2 separate regions of the Homo sapiens genome follow, and region 2 is linked to region 1. The links come from fine-mapping of genetic effects on gene expression. A gene starts in region 1. The other region holds a variant in brackets. All regions are shown on one strand. Distances are from middle to middle. Region 1 holds the start of DTNBP1 (dystrobrevin binding protein 1). Region 2 overlaps DTNBP1 (dystrobrevin binding protein 1).

Region 1 (2,500 bases):
GGGAGAAATTTAAAACAGTATGAGTGGAAATGTTCTCACATTCAGTGCATCCTCCAACAGGATTTGTAAGCTAAAGTTGAAAGATCCTTTTCAAAGACAGATCTTTTTCACTTTAAAGGAATGAAAAAATTAAAATTAAGCACTAAGTAACAATACTGACATGATGCTTGCTTCGTGTTTTACACATTAATTCATTAATCCTTGTAATAACCTTTTAAGTACCATCATTATCCCCATTTTACGGTAGCGGAAACAGTACATTGAGGCAAGGCAGCTGAGTAACTACGTTTGATTTAGTGGTCGAGCCAGGATGCCTAGGCAATCTGGCGCCAGAGTCTCGGCCTGTGGTTCCCAGGCGTTGGTGCCCACTGGAATCCCCTGGGGATCTTTAAAACGCCGTCTCCAGGCACTCTGGTCAACAGGTAGGGGGTGAGACCTGGGCATCAGAACTCTGAAAGGTTCCCAGGTGATTCTAAGCAAAGTTTGGGAACCGCTGGGTATTAAAAGCATTCCTAAAGTTCTGTCGCTTCTCCTGCTTAGGAGTTCCTTCGCCGAGGCGCTGAGCTCACGGCAAAGGTAGAGAAAGGACGCAACGGGGAGGGGCGGCCAGCCTTGCCAAGGGTTAGGCCGGCGAGCCGGGCGTGAAAGCCGAGACGCGGCGCGGAAGGCTGTGGCCGGAGGGTGCAGGCTGCTGCGCGGTGCGATCCGACTCGGGGAGGGTGGCTGGCCCAGCTCCAGGTGCGCACGAGCAGGTGTCTGCTGGGCCGAGGGGCGCAGGCCACTGTGCCGCGGGGGCGGAAGCGGTGAGGCGCGCTGGCTTCTCACATGACTTCCCTCCAGGGCCCAGCTGATGCTGCCGGGAAAGGACCGCAGGGTCCCACACCCCCCCCGGGCGCTCCGCTGCGCCGCCGAGCGCCTCCCGGTCCTGGGGGGTGCGCGTCACAGGCGGCCCGCAGGGACCTAAGTTACTTTGCGCCGCCCGACGCGAGGACGCCGGGAAGTTCGTTACTTTCCTCGGCGGGGCGGGGCGGGGAGGTGCGGGACAGGACGGACCCTGGACCGTGGCGCGGGGAAGGGAGCGAGGCAGGGGCATCCCAGGCGGCGGCCCGGCCCCCTCAGGTCCCTTTTCGTCGCCCACCGTATACCCACCCGGAGGTGAAATCCTGCTGCACGCTCAGCAGCCGCTCGCGAAGGGTCTCCAGCATTGCCGCCGCCGCCGGTCTCCTCTCCTCAGGCCTCGGGCTGCTGCTGCCTCTGTCGCCCCCTGGGTCCCACGCCGCCAACCCCGCGCTGTCACCGCGCGCCCCGCACTCCCACTACCGGCCCCGCCCCCGGTCTGGTCCTCGCCGCCGCGCCGCAACCCCAGCCCCTTCCGCGTTCCCGCCCCGCGCGCGCCAGGCTCGCGCAGCCGCAGTGGACTGCGCCGGGCTCGGGCTGCGGAAAAGGGGCGGGTCTTCCCCCGACCGAGAGGGCCAGTAGCTCCTCGGCTCATTCCTATCCCGCACCAGGCCTTCTCGTTTTTTTTTTTTTTTCTTTAAAATGGAAGCGGCATCGTGAAAGGATGATTTAACTCGAAGCCTCCTTTGAGGGAAGTGTTGGCTTTTACGTTTTGGAAGAGAATTGGATCTCTCTCTTCAATAGGCGATGTGCACAAATCATTGCATGGATTCTAGGTCCAGGATCTGACCCCACTGGCTTTCACCTTGAATGAGACAGTCAAATATTGAGCCTCGGTTTCTTCATTCATAAAATGGCAATAATAGTCGACTGTCTCGACATTCTTACTTTCCACTCTCTCTTTACCCCCCCAGGCTTTTGTGCCCTACACACCAAAGGTGATCGCCTTTCGCGAGTCACCAGTGACTTCCATGTTGCTGATGCCTTTTATTACTTCTCTGCCCTGATTTTTTCTCCACCTCTCAGTGGCTTTCAATGCAGTTTATCATCCCCATCCTTAAAACACTTTCTTCTCTTGCTAAGCACTCCATAGTTCCTCTCTCCCTTCCGCTCCACCCCTTCTCCTATTTTAATAGCCACTCCCAAGGCTACAGTCCAGCCTCCCCAGCTCTTCTCTCTTCTCCAGATGTGTTGTTCCATAGATGGATAGCATAGAGTCTATCCATTACCACGCTGTAAATTCTGTCAAGGAACCGATGACTCCCACAGCTCTATCTTCTGCCCTGTCCTTCCTCCCTCTCCGTCAATTCATACCAGTTGCTTACTCATGTAAGCATGTATACAACATGTATCCAAAAGGCATCTCAGACCAACATACACAAAATTGAAAATTTCATTCATTGCATGTTCACCTTTAATCTGCTCATCCTGTATTTTCCGTTTCAGTAAATGACACCACCATCCACCAATTTGCTCAAGGTAAGACACTTGAAATCACCTCTGGTTCCCCTCTTTTCCTCATTCCCCATATTAACCCATCAAATCCAATCAACTCTACTCCTGAAGTATTTCTGGAACCTCCTTCTCTTTCTATATCTTCACT
Region 2 (2,500 bases), 78 kb before region 1:
CTCAAGCGATCCTCCTGCCTCGGCCTTCCAAAGTGCTGGGATTACAGGTGTGAGCCACTGCTCCCACCCATATACTTATATTTATGCTATAGGCATACCTTTACAGGGAAAGCCAGATGAATATTTAAGTAGGAGTGAGAGTTTCTCAGCTCAGTTGGCCACTTGACTTCTCCCCTACTCTAGAAGTTTATAAAAACCATTAGGCAACTACCAATCTTCTGAGAAAAGTACAAACTCCATCCCAGTTGCCTTCAACAGTTTAATCAGCAGAGCTACAAGATCCCACAGGTTATTTTCCAGCACACACCTCTAAAAAGCTAAGACAAAATCATGAAGCTCCATATGAATTCAACAGACAAAGTCTCTTGTTAAGGCTGACAGCTAAAATTTTCAAAGATTTCTTTTTGTGGTTTTAAAATTTAGTTTTCTGAAAGGTATAATTTTTGCTGTCAAGTTATACCATGTTCCAGCAAAAAGGTAATGAAACAGAATAGCTGTATTTATTCATGATACCAAACATTTATGATAGACAACAAAACGTTGTCCTGATTCACTTCTAAAATACTCTATTGCTATAATTATTGATCATACAATGGTGGTATATGATCATTACAAGAAATCCCAGAAAAGTAACATTTAAGCATCACAACCCTAATCTTGATGCTCTATTTTTATGTAGTTTAATACCTAAACAAGCTGTTAAAGTGCCAATTCCCCTTCAATATAGAACATCGTCTTAGAGAATTTCAGGTCATGCCCAGTATGACAACTTAAGACATGGTATTAGAATAAACAATCAACTCCGTCTTAGAAATAAACTGTCTTAGAGCCAAAATTAACAAACAGGATATAAATATTTTGGTATTACAGGATATAGATACTAACTTTATTTAAACACTGTTACATAAATATAAGCCAGCTTTTAAAAAAACGAATATACACTTAACATATATTGACATATGAGAAAAAGATGAGCAGACACCTCAAAAATCTTGCCAGTATTTACCAACAAATCATGATTTTCAAGGAGCAATTTCTTAGATGAATGATCTAAAATATTAAAATTGAATATCAGATTATACCTATATGCAGATCTTTACTCTTAGAACCATTATTTAAGATAATGACTGAGAGAAGAGAAAATATGTCATTTATCATACATTCCCTATAAGTAAATACTTTAAAAATAAATGCCAAAGTTCTCACTGATAAGTTTTTTCCTGAACACTTAATAATGAATAAGAATGTGGTAAAACCTCTAGTTAGAATTTGATTCCATTAATGCTCCAATTTTATAATGAATTCCTGAGCTATCATTTTACTTCTGTTAATATGTCTATCTAAGCTTGAAAGGTTTTGCTATGTTATACATACACAGGCGTGAGAGAGGGACACAAAGAAGGAACTTTTCTCTTAAGTTTGATATACCTTATTCAAATTTGTAATATTAAAAAGAGAATAACCTTGA[T/C]AGATGAGAGACAACATGTATTTCTTTTTTTTTTTTTTTTTTTTTTTCATTTACAGAGAAGTGGCTTCTACCTGACAAGGCATGATGTATATAACATGCCATAACGTATGCCAACTAAAAGAAATAACAGGGAGTTTTAAAAAATGCAATCACTATTAAAAATTATTCCTCAGTTACCACCCCCATGGATAGTACAATAAATTACTCAACAAAAAATGCACAGTTAATTTTTCAGGTATTTTTTGCAGTAAGTTCCACAACTTCAATATCCTTATATATGTATTTATATATATATATAAATACCACACAGAGATGTCATTAAAACCACAGCCTCTGGCTAACAGATAAGGAATACACTGAAGTTATATGAAATTATGAAAAGAATATATATATATATATATATATATATATATATATATATATATATATATTCAACCTGTATGAAGCATTATGACATTTTTCAAAATCCATATTGAAAATCAGCCATTTTAGATAAATCCATATAGTACCATAGAATGAATTTTAACTTTATACTATCTTTGGATATGGCTCACATATTTAACTCTATTAACTGCCTCTTGGAAAATGAACATACTAGCAGCAAGGGATGCCGAATTAGTTTTATGGAGCTGTACCAGCCTCATTATTCAAATAGCTAGTATTATTTTCCTGGTATTTTATATTTATCTTTTAATACAAATATTGCTTCATAAAAAATGTCAGTTTGATTAATTTCACCTGATGCATGAAAAGACACATATTGTAAAAAAAAAAAAAAGTCCTACATTTCCATGCAACATTTTAAACTTATTTTAGGTATTAATTTAGTAATTATTACTTGTTGGTAATAGAAAGAACTAATAATGCTCTCATAAAAATGTACTACTTGTAGGTTCAAGTCAAGTTGAAATTTAATTTCTGCTTTTTAATAATATATCATCTGCATACCATGCAAATACAGCAATGTATCCAGGCATGGAAATAAACATTTCAAAGGAAAGCAGCAAAGGAAAAACAGAAAATAAAGTTCCA

Evidence for each region. PIP is the estimated chance that this variant, and not a neighbour inherited with it, causes the effect.
Region 2: its variant is fine-mapped to the expression of DTNBP1 in whole blood (TOPMed, PIP 0.94).

What each region holds. Positions count from the first base shown.
Region 1 is chr6:15,661,665-15,664,164 of GRCh38, forward strand. DTNBP1 (dystrobrevin binding protein 1) reads right to left here and starts at 1,364. Exons shown (of 10, transcript NM_032122.5): 1 at 1,150-1,364. The coding sequence starts at 1,205. RefSeq lists an enhancer at 571-620 and a silencer at 851-1,360.
Region 2 is chr6:15,583,214-15,585,713 of GRCh38, forward strand. All of the region lies in intron 7 of DTNBP1 (dystrobrevin binding protein 1), which reads right to left. Among named protein-coding and RNA genes, the nearest start is that of DTNBP1-AS1, 38 kb to the left of the region's middle. RefSeq lists a silencer at 71-271. The variant T/C (reference allele first, on the strand shown) is at 1,469.